4 separate regions of the Homo sapiens genome follow, and all the other regions are linked to region 1. Evidence: fine-mapped expression QTL. A gene starts in region 1. Each other region holds a variant in brackets. All regions are shown on one strand. Distances are between the middles of the regions.

The links.
Region 2: its variant is fine-mapped to the expression of ANKK1 in whole blood (TOPMed, PIP above 0.99).
Region 3: its variant is fine-mapped to the expression of ANKK1 in tibial artery (GTEx, PIP 0.94).
Region 4: its variant is fine-mapped to the expression of ANKK1 in prefrontal cortex (BrainSeq, PIP 0.95).

Annotation. Positions count from the first base shown.
Region 1 is chr11:113,384,679-113,389,833 of GRCh38, reverse strand. ANKK1 (ankyrin repeat and kinase domain containing 1) reads right to left here and starts at 2,055. Exons shown (of 8, transcript NM_178510.2): 1 at 1,765-2,055. The coding sequence starts at 1,949.
Region 2 is chr11:113,319,555-113,324,680 of GRCh38, reverse strand. It overlaps TTC12 (tetratricopeptide repeat domain 12), which reads right to left. Exons shown (of 22, transcript NM_017868.4): 3 at 1,230-1,393; 4 at 666-687; 5 at 1-76. Among named protein-coding and RNA genes, the nearest start is that of TTC12, 7.5 kb to the right of the region's middle. The variant G/A (reference allele first, on the strand shown) is at 2,606.
Region 3 is chr11:113,430,408-113,435,562 of GRCh38, reverse strand. All of the region lies in intron 1 of DRD2 (dopamine receptor D2), which reads left to right. Among named protein-coding and RNA genes, the nearest start is that of MIR4301, 17 kb to the left of the region's middle. The variant GA/A (reference allele first, on the strand shown) is at 2,846.
Region 4 is chr11:113,289,667-113,294,786 of GRCh38, reverse strand. The region is part of intron 1 of TTC12-DT (TTC12 divergent transcript); the gene reads left to right. Among named protein-coding and RNA genes, the nearest start is that of NCAM1-AS1, 18 kb to the right of the region's middle. The variant A/G (reference allele first, on the strand shown) is at 2,639.

The DNA of each region.
Region 1 (5,155 bases):
TTTTCCACTGCTCTTTTACTCTCCCAACTCCAGCCATCATGGCCTTTTCCCATCTTTGTACTTACCATGCCCCTCTTGCCACAGATTCTTTGCACACTCTGTTGTCTGTTCTTGGAAAACTTTCTCCTCCTCACCTACTTAACTTATACTCATTCTTCACATTTCAGCTGTAGTGTAACTTCTTCAAGGAAGCCTTTTCTGATATCAGTCAAACTTTCTGTTAATGAGCTCTCCTAGAGCCACAAATCTCCCCTTCTTAAGCTTCTCACAGTAGCACATTTACATTTACATGTGGGGTTATCTGGTTAATGTCTTCCTCCCCCTAGGCTGCAATCTCCCGGAGAGAAAGGACACATCTGTTGCATTCATCGTTAATCCCAGGGTGTAGAACAGTGCCTGACACATAGTAGAAGAGCAGTAAGCATTTGTCAAGTGGATGAATGAATGAATAGCTGGAAAGAGGATCTAGTAAAGTAATGCACGTAAAGCTCCTAGTATAGTAATCCATACATACTAAGTCTTAATTACCATTAATTATCTTACCCCCTCCACCCAGGGAATTCCCAGAACTTGGGAAGGGAAAGTGGCAGGAGTTAGCATCAATGTCTCACAGTGTAATCATGTCACTGCCATCTGTTTCCTTTCGTTCTATATTCAAAAGGCTATAAATGATTTAGACAAATCCTAGCATACTCTGACCCTCCTCCAAAACCAACAGGCAGATGTTGAGGGAGGAAGGTGAGTGGGCCTTAGGCGATCTTATTTTTCCTCTCCTCATAAGGTGGGGGAAGGCCTGGGAACTGAGTGTGTGGCACCTGAGGCTGTATCTTAAGAGTTTGCATGGTAATCCTAGAGAACCACAGATAGCATCCAAGCCAGATGCCAGTCAGAGAGACCCCCGTCCCGGACTCTCTAATTGATGTCCCAGAGCCTTGGGAGGAGGACATGGTTATCATGCTCAGGTTTAACATCCCGAGTGTCTTCTTCATGGCTGCAAGGTGCAAGCACACAGCTAGTATATGCAACTCCAGTGGGAATGAGACTGGATTCCAAATCAGTGGGAAGACAGAGAATAATGGAAACGTAGGAAAGAGGTAGGAAGAGAAAAATAGGGGCATGTCAAGGCGTCGCTGTAGTGCGCATGACAGCAAGGGACAAAAACAAAAACAGAGATGAGAGAACTCCAGACTTGACCCTCCAAGGGCCTGGACAGGCCATCAGGCCGGGCAGTCTCCATCCCCTGACCTCCTCAGCCTGCACTGATTGGGAGGGGCCTCCTCCCTCCCGCCACCGTGGGAAGAGAGAACATGATTCCCTGCAGATCTGAGCAAAGTGCCACAGCCTCCCAGGATGCTCAGCCCTGCCCTGAGAGCTGGGGTGGGTAGGAGGATGGCAGAGAGCGGTCAAGAGCAGTTATTGCCACAGGACACCGGGGGAAGAAGGCGCTGGAGAGAAGGATGGAAGCAGGCAGGACAAGTTCGGAAGGTCAGATGGGATAAAGGCGTCTTTGGTAGGTAGTTCCCGCTTGCCTTTGACCTCTGTTGAGTCTACAAACAGGTATTATGTGCCAACTCTATTTTGGTTAGGGAGACAGGTATGGGTGTGCCTGGGAGGCTCAGGCTACTGGGTGGAATTCAGAAATACCGCGGGGGACAGTCCTCAGCCCCAAACTCAGCCCACTCCTTCCTCGCAAGCTCCCTGGGCCCAAAGCTTGCCGGGCCTCAGTTTCTCCTCCGAGAAAGGGGAGGGCGAGGCTGGCAGTACCTGGCGGCGTCGGGTGGAAGGCAGGGGGCGCACTTGATGGCGTACTCCGTCCGCCAGCGCCTGTGCCGCGCCTGGAACACCTGGCTGAAGCCGCCGCTGGCCACTAGGCGCCAGTCGCCCTCGAAGTCGTCGCGGGTGAAGACGGGGAGGCTGCCCAGCCGCAGCTCGGTGGGGTCGGCAGCCATTGCCCCTCTCTTCCTGTCCCCGCGCCGCGCACTCCCCGCTGTGGCTGCTGCCTGGGTGGCCGAAGGAGCCGCCGCTTCCTGCTCCTCGGGTCCGGGAGAGGGGAATGGGGAGACGAGCCGGCCCTGCCTCCTTCCCCGCCCAAGAGGAGCCGCTCCTGCCCCGCAAAGGTGGGGAAATCCCAGACATGAGCCCTGAGGCCCCAGCAGGGATGGAGCGACCTGGGCCTGGGGAAGAGGGTATGTCCCTCCGAAGCCCTCGCATTTCCCCTGTCTCAGCCTTTGATTTTCCCCAGTTCCCCCTAGGGAGGGATGCTGGGAGAAGGTGTCCCGAAGCTGGAAGAAGTCCAGCCTGAGAAGTTGGATCCAGTTTATTTAGGCCCAGCGCTAAGTGAAATCGGTTTATGCATTCCTTCAGTGCATTCAAGGTTTTATGGTTTATGAAGGATTCAGGCCTGGACCCCTGCCCCTATCCAGCAAGTATGGGGCTCAAACAATTTTAATGGGGATTTTCTGGTCTGAATCTGTTGGTCTGACTGGTTTCATGTTTCCTTTGTTCTTGTTGGGGTTTTGTTTGTTTGTTTGTTAGCCAGCCTTGGTGTGCTATAGGTTACCAAGGAGGGGTCAGCAGGGACAGAGTTGCGGGGGAGGCTGGGCTCCTGTCTGCAGGGGACTCCCTTCCTGGGCTGCGCTCTATCCAACCTCAGAGGGATGGACCCCAGCCTCGGGGTGGCCACGGGGGAGGTGGCCTCCTTGGCGCAGTTACTAGGGGCAGTTTGTTGCCAGGGATGAGAGGAGGCTCTAGCTGGAGCCTGACCAGTGCTGAGCTTGGAGGTTCCCCTGGGTCCTGGGTCCATGGGATTGCCCTCTCACCTTGGAGACCCTCAGAGCAGGGAAAATGACAAGTGCTTGAACAGACAGGTCTCCCCAGGGGCACTGACCAAGTGGGCCATTGCCCAGAGACAGGCATACCTGGAGGAACTGTGGCCACGGAGTGCAGAGTCAGCCACTATTTGCCTACAGCTGAGTAAGTCCACAAGGAGCCCTCAGAGTGATCACTGTTAGGTTTGAGGAGCCTACCTACCAGACAAGGAAGTGCCTTGCCTTCAGCCCAAACCTGCAGAGCCCCTCGTCCATGCCACAAGCCCACCAGACTCCCAGGGAACAGTGTAGGCATGATAGGCAAACAGAGACTCCCTGTGGAAGCTGGAGAACTTGCTCCCTCTGTAACAACTTACCTGCAACTTCCAGGATGAATTCTGGCAAGCAGATTAAGGATCAAAGATTGGGCCTGGAGACAGTTGTCATAGAAACTAGTGATAGCCACTACTAATTGAACACTCACTTTGTTCCAGGATCAGTGACTATTTCAGTTACTGCATTGCTTTACATATATTATCCTGTTTATCTTGCAACAATGTTATGAGGTCAACATCTTCTATTCACAGATGAGGAAACTGGCTTCAAGACAATAAGTAATCAATGGACACATAGCTAGTAAGTGGTAGTTGATATTCAAACTCAAGTCTCTTAGTTTCTATGGAAATGGTTGGCCAGGGGAGGATCAGGGAGTAGCCTTTTATGAATACAAAAAAGGAAGAGAGAGAGTCATGCTCCCTGGAAGAGGGTGGAGATGATGGAAACTGCATCAGGAGCAGGACGTATCCCCCAAACATATGTCAGAGGGAGGCCCCCAGCTTGCTTTGGCTGGAGCAAGACAGGGCATAACAGAACCCATTGTCTCTGGAGTAGCCCTGCCTGCCCAAGTTTAAAGCCTCTGCCAGAGAAGTTTGGAAGGTGATAAAGGACATTGTCATCAGGGAGACCAGGAGGTCAAGAGGATGTTTCATACCTTCTACTGGGAGGGTGAACATGGAGACTGGGAAGGTGACCAGCCACCCAGCTCTGCGGAAGTTTGACTGAGGCCCGATCTTTGACATTCAGCGAGACCTATCTCAGCTCCTGGAGGAAATACCAAGGGTGAATGGCCTGAGTCATTTCAGCAGTTCCCCTTGATCCACTTATACCTGAAGTGGCTCTCCAGGGAGAGGAAGTAACCAGAAGCTGCCATTGTCTGCCTGCAGAGACTGTCACAGGAATACTGAAGAAAGCATCATTCCTAGAAGAGGGGACACCCAGGGCTCAAGGCATGTTGCCAGAATCCCGAACAAAATACCTCTGAATTTCTCACAGGGGTGGAGGTGGAGGAACTGCAGGGTCAGGGCGTATTACTGCTGACCCACCTGTTGAAACTCTCTGCTGTGGGTTCAAGCACCCCTGAGGCTTCTGAGGAGTCAGTCAAAATAGATACATTCATTGACCCAGAGGGACTGGATCATTTGACTGGGCTTGTCCTGCTCCTTACAGCTGTCTAACATGGGCTAGGGCAAAGGCCTAGTAGTCTTTGGATAAGCTCTGGGAGAAGTTGTAAGTGGAGGGACCCTTTCTGAGTATAAGGTCACAGAGGCAAAGAACTCCTGGATCTCTCATTAAAAGTGGGGTGAGGTATAGGGATTTGCAAAAGAGTAAAGTCAACTCAGAGGCTGCTGGTTTCTTTCCAGTGGTCTGAGTGCAGAAGTCCCTAGGTCCTGGCTGGTTGGGAAGTCAGCAGCCAGTGTGTGGAGGGGAGAGAGCTGGGGGGTTGGGAGGGAAACTCTACCTTTACCCATATCTACCTACAAATGGGAATGGATAATGAAGTGGTTATAGTCCAATTATGACCCCCACCCACCAGAAGGGGCAAGGAACAGGTTCTAGCTATAGAAGTTTTACCCCAAAATGCTCTGAGTCCTTCCAACTAACCTCTATCAGTGCATTTTGTTTGGGCAGATTGAAGATGGAAGTGTTCTGGATTTGGAGTTATTAAATGAATTTTGTGTGTATGTGTGATTGTCTTTGGGGAACCTAAGATTTTTAGCCTGCTCCTCCCAGACAAGTGAGCTGGTACAGGAGCTCTGCAATACTTTAGAAGATGCTGAAATCTGATGTGAGCCTTTCCCCAAACCGGAATGACAAGCTATTTGCATATAGGGAAGTTTCCCAGTCTGCCCCTGTTCTCCACCCTGCAAACATGTCACGGAGAACCCTGGACAGGTTCTGGCAGGCCCCAGCCTCTGGTAGCTTGTGTACTGAGGTTGGTCAGGATAAAGGAATGTATGCAGGAAAGTGGAACATCTGTTCAGGAAGCAGGACTCCCAGAGTGAAAGGGA
Region 2 (5,126 bases), 65 kb after region 1:
TCCGCCAAGACTTTGTTTTCCCTTCTTCTCTTGGCTCGTTCCTTTGCATCCTTCTCCACAGATGCCAAGAAGGCCTCTGACAGCAGGGTAATTTCAGATATTAAAAAGAAAAATCCAAATACTATAATCAGTTCTTTAGCTCAAATTCGAAGTGTTACTTTAGAGCCACACGTATGCATATGCACACAGGCACACACACGCACACACACCATTCTGAGGCAACTAAAATGACATTTTCTTCATTTGACATTAAATGGTAATCTGTGTGATGCATTATTACACATGATGGCTATGACTGTGCTTCAAATTTGAATTATGTCTTTTAAAAGAGTTTTTCTTTGAAGAGAGATTTTTTTGTTCCGTTTAGCATAATGAGCTTCTGAGCTGAGCAACAGAGAAACTATCTGGATCCCTTGAACAGGGTAAATTGGATGATACAGAATAACTGAATTGAGTTTACAAAAGGTTGACCAAGAGAAAATAAAGAAAAACCTCTCAGGGACATTCCCGCTGATCACTAGTAACAGAATGGGATGATCAGTAGGTTTTTGTTCACAGGTTGTTTGTAAGCTCAAAGGCAATAATTTAAGGGTCTGGGAGCTACAATCAATCAAAACTGGTCCTATATAAAGAATGAAAATTGGGAAGAGAGATGCTGTCCTTACCTGAGTTTATTTCTTCTGCACTCTGTAGACGTAGGTTACCATAAAAACAAAGAAACAAATTTCAAAAACCACTCTAATTTATATGTATATAAACCAAGAAGGCAAATCAATTACAAACAAGAGGTCATTTCTTTTAACCATCAAAACTGAAGGGCTCAGAATTCATGGGGCTTGCTTTAAATCAGGAGATCTGAGTATGGGCACAATTGCTATGGGACCGAGTCTGCAAAACAAGGCTGCCCAGGTCAAGGGACCTCAGCTGTGGCTTATGAGTTGGAAATGAGTTAGAATACATTACCTTAAAGGTACAGCTTAAATATATCACACAAGCTCAGGGGGTGGAGAGGGGAAATTTCCATTAAAATAGATCCAAAGGGTTGTTTAAAGATAACCCAGAAAGATCAAAGGAAAAAAAAAATCAAATTTTATACTTTCTTATAAAAAATAAATCTAAGAAACAAAAGACCATTTCAGCCTTGCTGGACAGTTTGAGATTAAACTACTGCCTAGGTGTAGGTCTTCTCACTGTAAGTACTTATATAACTTCTCAATAGAAAAAGAAACCTTCATAGCAGTTTGTGGAGGACTGATCATAGTCTTGTTCAAGGTGGTCCTGCATTCATCCTCCTCCTGGTCTTCCTCCATAAGCAGTAGTCTCTTTTCTGTCTCCAGGACAGCTTTCTGTTGCACAACTGGGTCATCAGAATTCATCTCCTGAATTAAATTGGCTAGAGAAGAAATCAGGTGTGACTTAATCAAACAAGATATTCAAAAGACTCTATTCACTAGAAAGGATGGTGCATAAAATGCATGGGAAAGATCTTAAAGAAAAAAATAGAGCAATAGAAAGCAAAATAGAGCAAGCAGAACCAATGAGAAAAAATTAACAACAGGTTTTTTTTTTTTTTTTTTTGCCTAGAAAAAGTTGCAGGTGAGTATAGCTATTAGCTTTAAGGAACAGAGTTTTAAGCCATTATTCAATTCAACAATAATTTATGGAGAGCTCATTATGAGTTAGATATTATGCTGATGCTATAGATAACAATGATGAATAAAAAAAGATCCTTTTTTGAAGAGTTTATGAACTTGTGTGGGAGACAAACATGTAAGTACAGGCAGCTCAAAATCGCAAAACAGCAGCCCTTAACCCTATCCTCACCTGTCTTCACTTTACTGCTTATCCAGCTTAGATTCCATGGTCAATCACTCAGCAGCCATCCTGCCCATATACTCAACTCCCTTGCCCTGCTATCTCACCTAACAGACAAAATTCCAGCTCTACATAATTCCAATTACCCAATTCTACCAGTCTGCATTAGGAATGCTATGTACTGAGGGAGACAGATAGATGCCTGGGGGACTGGTCCAAACTCAAACTCAACTGGACCTTCAGTGATGCCCAGCAATCCTTGTTATCCTGGGCAAGATATCCTGTCACTCCCCCAATGACTTTTAACAGTTTGCAATCTAAACCTGACCATCTCAAAAAGATGCCCTTATTTATCAATTCAGAGAGGAAAGAGATGCCATCGACTTCCTGCTATTAAAACTACAAAACTGCCTATACCTACATCCATCCTTCCTTACTACCAGGAAAAGGTGCCCATTCTTCTGTAAGGTTAGTCCCTCATCCTGGGCCCAGGATTCCATTGTCATATTTTGCATAATCAGGAACGCTGCATCACCAATTAATAATCCTATTGCGCAATATTTTCAACCTATTCCATTCGACCAGCTTCCTTCTAAATTATGTACTTTAAATCTCTCCTAATGCTCTGTCTCCTCCCCTTCACAATTAAACTTCTTAATTCATTTTCCTGTTCTAATTTCTTCATTTCCCACTGAGTCTTCAAGGAAATTATAAATTTTTAATTGTACAATATTTCAAGCATACCGAAAGTAATATAATATTTTTGTTTCTATGCCATTTATAAGTTGAT[G/A]GTATCTTTTCTCCAGCATGCTTTAATACTTAGTATTTGTATCATTTAGATTTTGCTGCATCACACACCACATCAAAACTTAGTGGTTTGAAACAAACCACCATTTTTGTGGCTTAGTTTACAATTATCTATGTCAACAATTTGAGCTGAATTCAGCTGGCCAGTTCTGGTTTCAGCTGGACTCACACATATATCCATGGTCAACTGTCAGTCATCTAAGTGGCTCTGCTTTAGAAAGTCTGCTGGCTGTTGGCTTGAGAAATGCAAGCAACCCGGGTAAGTGTGTCTTACTTTCTCATGAGTGGTATGAGTGCAAGCCCTAATTCAAATGCACTTTTCAAGCCTCTGCTTGTGTCATGTTTGCAAACATCCTTTTGGCCAAAGCAACACACATGGCCAACCCAGATTCAAGTGGCAGAGAAATAGGCTCCACTCTTGATGGGAAGAAAGGAATTTGTAACCATTCTTGCAATCTACCAGAATATTTGTGTATGTAATATTTAAACAATTTTTTAAAATAGTTGTATAAAATGTGCATTCATTTGCAACCTACTTTTTTCTCTTAAGATGCTTTAGAGATGTGTTCTTGATACACATGGTTCCAGTTGATTCATTTAAACCATTATATATACCATAGTTAATCCATTCTCTTATTGATAGCCAGGTGGTTTTTCAGTTTTTTCTAAAGTAAATAAATGCTGAATTGAATACCTGTATGTACATATTTCCTTGTGCACATGTTACATATCCTTCAGGATATGGCTGTACCAATTTTTACTCCTACAAAAGAGTACAAGAGGAAGTTCCCATTCTTCTACATTCTTATCATCACTTGCTGGGTTAAACTTTTTAATTGTTGTCAATGTAATGGATGGGAATGGTATCTCATTGTTTTAATTTGCATTTCGCTGAATTTGATTGGAATTGAGCATCTTCTTATTGATTTGCACCCATTTGGATTTCTACGAAGAGCCTACTCCTATCCTTGGCCAATTTTCTATTGGGTCATTGTCTCTTTCTTATTAGTTAATATAATTTCTTTTTTAAAAAATTCTTTTTTTTTTAAGAGATGGTCTTGCTATGTTGTCCAGGCTCGATTTGAACCCCTGGGCTCAAGCGATCCTCCTGCTTCAGCCTCCTGAGTAGCAAAGACTACAGGCACACACCACCATGCCTGGTTGATTTGATTGTGAAACAGGGGAGTTCTCTGATCCCCCTCGCAGGACATGCGACAGGGGTGTGGCTTGCCTGTTTAGTCACCACCACTGCTCAAACCCCTGAGGGGAGGGGGAGAACGCAGACGGACAAGTGCAGGAGCCCAGTTGGGCACGTGTTACAGCGTGTCCTTTTAGCCCTGCCATCTGCGGACGACTTGATTGTTAACCAGCTTGACGGACATCTGCCTTTTCACAAGGGCAGAGGGAAGTGACAGCTTTTTGTATCCCGAGCTCTTGCCCAGCATCCCCGGAAGAATCAGGTCACACACAGGACTAAAGGATGAATGTGGGGTTTTACTGAGTGGTGGAGGTGGCTTTCAGTGGGATGGATGGGGAGCTGGAAGGGGGAATGGAGGGGAAAGATGATCTTCCCCTGGAGCCTGGCCATCCAGTGGCCCAACTCCCCTCTGGCTGCTCCCAGCCAAACTCCTCTCGGCGTTCAGACATTCCTCCTCTTTTCTCTACTGTGTCGTTCTGCCATTTGTCTGCTTGTGTCCTCATCTCACCTGCTCGTCTGCTTCTGGAGCCTGGGGTTCAGAGTTTACATGGGCACAGGATAGGGGAGCATGGCAGGCCAAAAGGCAACTTTTTGGGCACGAAAACAGAAATGCCTGTTTCCACTTAGCGCTGCAGATCTCCCGGCTTGAGGGTGGGGTCTTTGCCAGGGAACCACCCTCTTCTATCCACTATTCCCATCTCCTACCCGTATCAGTTGTATATATTCTGGACTGGTTACATGTATTTCCAAACATCTTCCCCTTGGGTATTCTTTGTCTTTTCATTTGTTTTTATGGAATATGTTGTTGAAGAGATTTTCTTTTTAATTTTAGTGTGTTAAATATACCATCTTTTCCTTTACAATTTAGGTCTTTTGTGTCAGTAAGGTTATAAATATACTCTCTTATGGTGTCTTATAAAAGTTTTAAAGTTTTTTTCTTACTAAGGTATGTAATTCACCTAGAGTTGACTTTCACGTAGGGCAGGAGCATTATTTGTTGAGAAGTCCCTGCCAGCAATGTGTCTCATCATCCCTGTTATGTGTGCAAATCTTCTCCAGGCTCTTCATTCCTTTCCCCTGATTGTCCTTTCCAGCACGAAAACCTCCATGCATTGATTACTATGGCTTTATAATAAATCTTGAATGTCAGGTAGGGAAAGTTGTCCTGCTTTTTTTTTTTTTCCTGCAGAGTTTTCTTGGCTCTTCTTGGTCCTTTGCTCTTCCACGTAAACTTTGGAATCAGCTTGCTGAATTTTAGTACATACTACTTTGCGGGTTTTGATCTAAATTGTATTTACTGCATAGA
Region 3 (5,155 bases), 46 kb before region 1:
TCATTCTCCCCACTGTGTTCCCTTCTCAGGGAGGGGGCCCCAGCCCCACACCTCCACCTGCCTCCCACCCACCAGTCTTCTGCAGTGCACGTGAGCTGCCCCAGGGATCTGCCCCTTCCCTCACACAGTATCGGAGCGGTGAGGATTTTTAATCAAAAGGCAGCACACGCAGAGAACAGCACCGCCACCACCCCGCTCAGCATCACTGAGCCATTCTCCCCCACCCCCCCCCACACTGAGTCACTCTAGCTAACAGTTAATTAATTTGTGACACTTTGACAGTTTATGAGGAGACATTTTTACGGAGCCATCAAAATCTGCAGGGATGGGGCTGTCAGGCAGACACCCCTTCCTGCATTCACTGCATCTCCCAGACCCTGCCTCACCCCGCTGCAGACCCTGGAGGCCTGCAACAAGGTAAGGCTGGGAAGACTCAAATTCTGCTGCTGCTCAGGCCTCTCAGAGATGCCACACTCCCAGGGACACCTGAGCAGGCCCAGGGCCACCTGGCCACCTTGGGAAGAAGCAGAGAGCGGGGTTGTCTGGGATGAGAGCCCTGGAGAAGGGGAGGCCTGGTCATGCTCAGCTGTGGTCTCCTCTGCTCCTAGACAAAGTCTCACACAGGGGCCCTTTCGATAGCTGGGCAAGGAACTGTGCGTGCTCCAGCCTCCCCCTGGGGACACCCCCACCCCACCCTTGTGCTCCATAGAGAACTGAGTCTCAGCTGCACTCAGCTCACTCACTGTGGATGCTTGGTAGTCTCTGGCTGGTGCTGATGGGGGGGGATGGCTCCCTTGGCCTGCTGTGACTTCCCTCCCACAGGGTGCTGCCAACCTGGACACTCTGAAGCCCTGGGCCTTCCAGAAGCCCAGAAGCCATCTCTACCAGCTCTGTGCTTTTCTTTCCACAGACTGTGTGTTGGCTATGACCTCTCCCCACCTCCCCACATCCCCACACTCACTTTCATCTGTGTGCCTCTTCTTCTTTTTCCAATGCCTTATAACACCTTTGTGCCACAGTGATGCCCACCTGGGAAACACCCTGCAAGGACCCGAACCAGCTGGGCACCCAACCCCAGCTACCACTGTGACTGGGACCCAGAGGGTCAACAGGAGATCTCAGAAGAGGCTATTGTACCCTTCACGAAGGATCTGGGAGGAGAAATGACTGCAGGGTAGGAAAAGACCTAGGGACTGGCCCCTTCACCCTTGAATGAGATGCTATCTCCATGGACGTCTCTCAAACGTGTGGAGCATGTGCTATTGCCAAGGCTGTGCTGGGGAGGGAGAAGACCAGGAGAGACAAGACACATGTGAGCCTTGCACACAGTTTAGCAAGAAGAACAGACATCAAACAAATCTCTAGACAAATACTGACTTCATTACACCTGTGCTGGGTGTCACCGAGGAGCACACGTGTTGTGAAAGCATTAAGTGAGAAGACGGGCTCTGAGCTGGAGTGGCAGGAAGGCTTCCTTGGAGAAGGGGCTGGAAAGATAGTCCTGAAGGGTGAGAAGGAGGAGGAGGCCAGCCAGGGTGTGCTATGCTGAGCCCAAGTGGCAGGAAGGGGCTTAGGGTTAGGAGTTGGGACTCAAGGAGGGTGCATGTGGCTGCCTGTGCCTGTAAGTTTATGGATTTGGTGACAGGAAATTGAGAAAGTGCCGAAGGCTAGCTTCTATTTTTACTGTGAGGTGGGAGGTAAGACTGGGAACTGCTGGCCAGGTTTAATTCCAGGGAGCAGGGGGAGAAGCTTGGAGCAGGCGACCCGGGTTGCCAACCTCAAGCTGGGCCACAGAAGGCCCTCGAGATTGTAGCCACTCTCTGGCTCCAGCTGCATAGGGCCAGACACAGCCAGAGACCACCAGTGGAGAGATTCATCCAGGCTGTTCCACGCCTTCTAAAGAAACCTAGACAATGTTCCCTGCAGATAACATAGCCAAGAGCTGCTGCGCGGTCCCTGAGCTCTGCTGCCTCGCTGCCTCTGAAGAACTCCAGGTTCCAGGGAGGCTCCCCATGCCGGGGGAGAAGGGGCAAATGGGGTATTAGTGTGTGGCCTCCCCCTGTCTCCCACAGCAGCCTCTGCCACCCCCAAATGGTAGTCCAGGCCACTCCCTGGGCTTCCACTAACGGGTATCCCCCAGCCTAGGTCTCTAGTCCAGACCTGTTCCCCCACAGTAGTGCTGAGGCTGTGGTTTGTGGGGGAGTCCAGGGGCTCAAGAAGGAGGAGCCCTTCCCCTTAACAGGGAAAGAGCAATCTGCATTTCTTCCCTCAGGAGTGACTGCTGACACCGGGGCCAGACCCACAGCCTCACACCCCACTCCCCTGTGCACTCGGGCCTGGGATGCAGGAAAAACCGTTCCCAGTGAGCCCAGGAGGTTGCCATCGTCCATTGCTCCAGGTTCCTCTTTGTCCCCACAGTCCTTTCTGTTTCTCCTCCCCCTCCTTTTTTTCCTCGCCACAGACCCTCCACACCCCAGCTCCAGGGCTTAGAGGCTTTGCCCTCCAGACAGTGACTGTGCCTGTCCATCTACCCACTCCCACCCTCGGCAACCCAAGGTCTGCAGCCGCCTGGCCTAGGGCTTTGGGAATGAGGTCTCCATTTCCTCTGCCATCTGCTGAGGTTGCCTCCTCGGCCAGAGAACATAAAAGTGTTATTCAGTAACTCTCTCCTTTTCCCTTGGATGTGGGAAGGAACGGGCGCACCACCTTTCCTCCCTCTTCCATTTCCATGCTGCCTTTTTGAAGTTGCAAGAGATGCTAAAAGAAGGTCCAACCCCAAGTGAGAGCCTGGCCTTTGCCTGGAGGGGTAGGGGCAGGTGGCCTATATCGCCAGGGTCCTGGAAAG[GA/A]ACCTCTTACCCACTCACTCCCAATTCCTATCCAACTCAAGTCACTCCAGTAGGCTGCTTTTGAGATGCAAATACAAAATGCTTTCTTCTCCCCCTCTACTTTTTCATTGAAATGCTTTGCATCTCAGAAAAGAGGAAAAAATGATGTGTTTAAGACAGGAGTGTCTCACCCGCCATCAAGCCTGATAAGGAATTGTTAAATTTTAATTAGACAATTTGATTCCTTCAAGTGCCGAACTTTCAGGGAAGGCAGCACCAAGACTTAAGCTGAGACGGAAGCATAGGAAACACGTTGCTGGGGTTTATGCTGCATCCAGGGCTTCTGTCCCCCACCTTTCTAGCTCTGTGCCCCAGATGAAATAGAAATGAGGTGGTGGGGATAGAGGGAGGGAGAGAGAGAGAGAGAGAGAGAGAGAGAGAGAGAGAGAAAGAGAGGATCAGAGAAAATCCTCTCTGTTCTCCCAGGACCTGCCAGCTTTCTTCCTGGATCCCAGGCTGTCCTAACAGATTGACCCTTTTCACCCCACTCCATCAGCCTGGGGACTAAGTGTTGCTACACCTTCCAAGTTTCTCCTGAGAGAAAATGTCAGGTTTGGGTGTCAGCCTCAAACTGCTGAGCCTTAAAGGAGCTTTTTTCCCTTCCAATACACTTTATAGGTTGGGGCGCCTGCCAGTTTTGGGGCGTGACTGGGAAAGCAGCCCCTTCCATACCTCATCTATACCCCAGAAGGCCTGCCCACTCCCTGTCCCCTCCTCTACTCCTGGGGGGCAGTGCAGTGGGTGGCCTGAGCAGGGTGGCCTGCCTGGGGCAGCCTGGGTGGGCTAGCTTAGCCCCGGGTATCTGGGCTCTTCCAGTACTTCTCAACTTGAGAGCTAGCTAATTTCCAAATTAGGGCACGCACAGAAAATAGTAGCATTTGTAAGGCATATAGGGTGAATAGCAGAAGCTGCTGAGGTTGGAAGTGCCTGCCTCTACATCCCAACTGACCTAATATTTCTATGCACCTTGATGCATTCTAGACCTCTGATTGGGGAAGTTCCACTCTGAAGCTTCTGAAGAGAGCCACTATTATAGAAGGCTGGAGTTAGGCTAGATGTTAGGAAGAACTTGACAGGCAGGGGTCCTGAGCACTAGAATGGATGACTCTGAAAGATATTTCTGTAGATCTTTGCCCTTCTGAGCTAGGGCAGAGCAAAGAGTCCTGGAGACAGATGAGGAGATCTTTGGCTCTTTGATGACCAGTAGCTTGCAGGTCACCACACAAATGCAGTCTTCTCTTTCTCCTGGCTTCCACCAGGGCAGCTGAGAAAGAAAAGCCTAGGAGGCCTCAGAGGACCCATGGAACCTTGTCTGCAAGCATCTGCATGGTGAGGGTGGAATGAGGAGCAGCAATTACCCCCACTTTCCTGCACAGAAAGGTGCCTTAGGGGAGAGGCAGCCACCCCTGGAGTGAGGCCTGGCAGCTACAGGATTAGATTGTTCATCCTCCACCCAGGAAACACTGTCAAGTAGCTCAACCTGTAACAGCTGGAAAATAACAGTGTCCATGCATGTATTTGGTGCTCACTAAGTTCTTGTTGACTGGGGATTGTGATTTGGAGTTTTGTAAGCTTTTATGCATGCCCAGGGGCCACCTGGGAGAAAGATGGAGATGACATTTGGAGGGTGGTGAGCAAGTTGATCATATTTTCACAATCAAAAATCAAAATGCTTGTTTTGATAACAATAGATTTTTAAATATACTGTGCCACTTTATTTGTCTCAAAAAAATTTCTCATGTAAGAATAATGCACCTTGGGTTATATATTTAGCCAATCTCCATTTTAAAAAAAGAACAAGAAATTGGGACCATCATGGCAAATACAAGGTGCCATGTGTTATGTGGCTTTGCATTTTCCCTCAACAAGCTCCAGAGTGGACAAAGAACTCACCAGGCTTCTTTGGAGCCAGAACCAGCCCAGCGTAACTGGAGCAGCACTGAGAACCTTTCCTCACTCCGCTACCATGAACACAAGCTCCAGCCAGGATGGAGAAGCTACTCACTTGTGTATTCTTTTGGGATGCCCCTTGGAGCCCAACAATCTGTGCAGCCCGGAGACAGAAGGACAAAAGGGAGGGATGGGCTGGAGCTGCAGCAGGGAAGCCTGGGGACCAGCAGGTTTTCTCAGGCCCCTTGAGAAAATACCAGCTTAGAAATGCTGGGAAGGCCCTGTATTGCTATCCACTCTACAATGCACTTCCCCCTGCCCCCACCATTTTAATGTCTCTGAAATCAGAATGCATTTTACAATGGATGACATCTTGGAGC
Region 4 (5,120 bases), 95 kb after region 1:
ATGCTAATTCTTTAGTTGGTAAGACTTCTCTGGCTATATCAGATATAACCAAAGGGGAGTAACATTAGAAGAACCTGGGTTAAGTGTATGCAGGAACTCCTCATACTATCTTTGCAACTCTTCTGTAAATCTAATATTTTTCCACATTAAAAGTTTAAAGAAAATCCCCTACAACTTCTTGTCCTAAACCACTCTCTCCTCCCAACTTCTAGTTCATGAATTCATTTGTTTATCCATTCAACAAATGTACTGAGCAACAACTTAGTGGCATGGGGATGGAGCAGGGGCATGAAGACAATGACAAGACAATGTGAAGACAGTGGCCTCAAGGAGCTTATGGTCTTTCCTGCAAATCTGCAAGACCTGCAGACAGTTATGATGCGATGGCATGAATGCTTCAGTGGAGAATTGTGCAGTGTGTGACACAAGCATAGGAGAAGGAAGAGAAGTAGGACTTTGCCAGGTGAGCAAGGCACTGTGGGCACAGTGACGAGCAGGTGTGCAGGCACACAGGTGAGAGAACACAGTGTCATCAGGAAACTATCAGTAATTCCATCTTATAGGAGTGAGTAATACAAGGGGAAGTTGCACTCAGTGAGGCACAGAGGGAGACAGGGGGGATATTCCAAGGATTGAGATTTTGTCCTGCAGGTGAAGGTAAACAACTGATGTGTTCTAAGCAAGTGAGTCACAGATTTGCACTACAGAAAGATAAGAAACCGGACAAGGTGGAGGCTCTCCGGCTACGGACAGAGGAATGACCCCAGGCTCTGTGCCTTGCCTTCTGCTTTGAGTCCTTCCTCTATTACGTCTCCCTGGACTGGTCCTCACTGCCTGAACACCCCCATCCTTTTTCTCTGCCTCCCTGCCTTAGAGCATCGATGTAGCCTTGGATTGTGCCATTCCTTGTTGAGACAGCTCCACAGACTATACATGTATGTCCTTTACTCACCTCTCACTTGCTGACTTCTTAGTGTTGTGGCTGGTGCTCAGCCACCAGGACTTTGCCTATGGGCAAGGAAGTGCATACAATTGCAAAGCACAGATGGGAGGCGTTGAGAGACCAAGTCAGCAGTTGCCGGGTTGGAGAGGAGGAGATGAATACAAGAGATGTTCAGTAGAGAAAATCAATAGAAAACATTGACAAATTGGAAATGGGGAGAGAGAAAGGAAGGATTCTGATGACAATGCCAGCTATTCAGCTTACAGAAGCGAATGGATGGCTCTGCCCTTCTCTGTGATAGGCAACAGAGGAAGGCGGGGGAGGGGAGGAGTTGGAGGAGGAGGGATGAAGAAAGGGATAATGAGAAGCTTTGGTGGGTTGAATTCATTGTGCTGGGGAAACAGTTGTCCATCCAGACTTTGGAAGAACCATTTAGGAAGAGGATAAAGATGTGAGGTTATCCACATATTTCTAGTATCCTGTGACAATAGGGTACATGTATGTATCCATACACATATGTGTCTCTTCCTCTTAAGCCAGTTTTCACTGAGAAAAATAAAGAGCTCTGAGCATAGAGTAAAATAAGTCTTGATTCAGGTTCTAGTTCTGCCATGTCCCATTTGTATCAAGGCTCTCCAGAGAAAACCAATGTGTCCACTGAGAAGTCCTGGGAGCAATGAGTACACTACACCAGCATCTCTTGAAACTTAGGTTTCCTGAAGAAATGGCTGCTTCCAGGACTGAAGAAGAGAAAGGACGAGATGAGAATGTAACATCCTGTTGTGTCAGGAAGTAATGAAGTGCTCAAAGAATGATTAGGTCATGTAAAAACCAGAAACCAGATGGAATGGGCTCCCACTGAGTGACCGGATCAGGGACAATCTGCACATCAAAATAAATAATGAAGCTAACAGAATTCACTGAAAACTAGACAATCACTAGTCTAGTCTAGTGGTTTTCTGATAGTGTTTATCTGATAGATAAACAATCAATTGAAAGTTTGATGGGGCACGGGATATTTACAAAGTTTTAAAGTCCCTCTACACATAGCATGCCCTCAATTAATGTTAATACTACCACAATGAACAAATGCTTTTTAACTACAAAGAGGGGAAAAGAGTGACTTCACAGCAAAAAAGCCTGGCAGACACCACCTTAATCAAGTGATCCAAGTGGGCATCGTCAGACACAGGAGGATGGAGATCACGTGCCACTTGGTAAGATGAAGCCAGAGTGAGAGGACCAGCTCCATGGCATTCCTGTGAAAGAGCAGCACCTGAATTTCGTTGTGAGAAAATGTTGGACAAGCTAAAATTGAGGGTCATTCTACAAAACCAATGGCCTGAACTCTTCGAAAATGTCAAGATCGTGACAAACAAAACAGAACTCATCTTCCAGATTGATGGAGACTAGAGAGGCATGAAACTAAAAAAAATGGTGTGTTCCTGGAGTGAATGTTGAACACACAAAGATTATTTTTCTTTTGTTTAAGGATCATCAGAGGAACAACTGGAGAAATTTGAATAAGGACTGCAGGTTAAAAAATAGTATTGTATCCATGTTAATTTTTTTTGAGACGGAGTCTGTCTGTGGCCCAGGCTGGAGTGCAGTGGTGGTGCGATCTTGCCTCACTGCAAGCTCCGCCTCCCGGGTTCACGCCATTCTCCTGCCTCAGCCTCCCGAGTAGCTGGGACT[A/G]CAGGCGCCTGCCACCATGCCTGGCTAATTTTTTTTGTATTTTTAGTAGAGACGGGGTTTCACCATGTTAGCCAGGATGGTCTCGATCTCCTGACCTCGTGATCTGACTGCCTCGGCCTCCCAAAGTGCTGGGATTACAGAGGTGAGCCACTGCACCTGGCCCCATGCTAATTTCTTGACATTGATTTTGATCTTGATTATGTAGGGGAGAGAAGGTCCTTGCTTATAAGAAATAGTACAATATTCACAGGTGCTGGAGCATCTGGCCAGAAATTTACTTTCAAGTGTTCAAGAAAAAGAAACATCTTTGCATTGCATTTGCATTTTTAATGTAAGTTTATGATTATGATTGGGAGTTGCTGAAGACATTTGTGTATGTGTGTGTGTGACCAGTTTTTCCCTAATCTACCACAATATTGTCCTTTTTTTCAACCTACCACAATGGCCAAAGAAGAACTCTTATTTCCAATCCTAGATAGGCTCCTTATCTCAATAAATGGCCTGAAACATTTGCTTTCTTGCTTAAGACAAAGCCTAGGAGACATCCTGACCCCCTTTTAAGCCACATCTTCCATCCAACCTACCAGCAAGTCCTGCCAAGCCTACTTCCAACACAGATCTTGAACTTGTTCTCTTTCCATGGCTGCTGCTTCCTCCCTCACATGAGCCACCCCATGTGCGTGTGAAGGGGAATTTCATAAACAGGTCCATAGGAGGCTATGATCTCTCTGTGTCCCGTGGCCACATGTCTGGCAGTAGACCTGAGGTTGAGCTTGGTCAGAAGGATGCTGACGGTCAGCTGAACTTGCGTGGAGGAGAGCAAAGGTGTGCAGGACTCATGAGCACCTCCACATTTCTCTGTCACTGCAGGAGACTATAAGTCCTTAAGAGCATGATGGACACCACGTCCTTCTGCCTTCAAATCACACATGAGTTCTTCCTTTGTCTAATTCTAACTGGAACCATACAAACAAGGGGGTCTAGGAAATGTGACTGCTAGCAAACATGTCGATGAGCGCATTCCCATTGCATCGGCCCCTGCCCATGCAACCTCAAGAAGCCATGTGACCTCACTCTATCCCATCATTCTGCTCAGGCCTCTGCAGAGCTGCTGCATTCTCAGTGGTTTACGGTGGCATTCTCCGCCAGGAAGTTAACTCGGGAGCATGGATCACATCCATTTTGGTGCCTACTGAATCTCTAGCACTAGAGCAGTGCCTTAGTCCATTCAGGCTAAAATCCACAGACTGGGTGGCTTATTAACAACGGAAATGTATTTCTTACAGTTGGGAAGGCTGGAAGTCCAAGATCAAGGCACTAGTAAATGGTGTCTGGTGAGGTCCCACTTCCTGGGTCATAGACCTTCTTCTCACTGTGTCCTCACATGGTGGAATGGGTGAGGGAGCTCTCTGGGGTCTCTTTCATCAGGGCATTAAACAAGGGATCCACCCTCATGATCTAGTCACCTCCCAAAATCCCTTAGGGGTTAGGATTGGGGGTTAGGAGTTCGACAAATGAACTGTAAATAACAACATTCAGTTTATAGCAAACAGGGAGTGGCACATGGTAATGAATAAATGCCCCCCCCCCCACTCACCTTGACATATGATTCTCTATTTTTGGATCTGCTACTTACAACAGCTTACTTCCACATGCTAATTTTTTAAATTACATAGCAATTATTAGTACTTTTTTATTTTAAGTTAAAAAAAAATCCCACACAAATTGACTTCAGTAAAGGGAATATATTGGTTCAGGGAATTGAAAAACCCAGGCATTTTTCAGGCACGTCTGGTCCATGGGACTCCAATGCCTCTGAGATCTGTTCTGCTTCCTGTGTGTTGGTTTCAATCTCAGGCAGGCTTTCCCTTGGGGTGGCACCTGGAAGCTCAAGACTTCTCTTCCTATGAGTTCCAACAGAGCTTCTTTCTTGCTAGTCATTTCCACAAAGTCCTAGGAGTGGAAGGAACATTCCCAGAGAAAAATCGAAGTACTGTTAAGAGAAGGAAGGAAAATGGATGTCCGCTGGATAAATGCATTTGTTTGCTACAGATTTGTTGTAAGGATTAAGAGATGATATTTTAAAGTTTCTGGCATGTAGCAAGCCCTCAATTAATGCAAGTTGCTGCAACAATACTTAATATTATCATGTAATTATTCTTACTGTATGAATCATTTTATAAGCTGTAGGATAGCAAATCAATGCTAGATTTCATTATCTCCTTTGGAGTTCAGCAGATGTGGACAGCTCAATTCAGGAGCAGAGGGGAGGAGAAGCCTCCATTTTCAGGCCCAAGGGGCAGGCAGCAGCTTTCCATTTGGGTGGCCAGGTTGGGGGAAAAGCCTGGTTTCCTGTGGTTCTTGGCACGGCCACTTGGTGGCAGTCTTAGCCCACTGTGCCCTTCCCAGCCAGGCCCAGCTGCTCATCTGGGTTTCCCCTGAGAGCCTCAGGGACTCTACCCCTCTGCATACCACAGCTCTG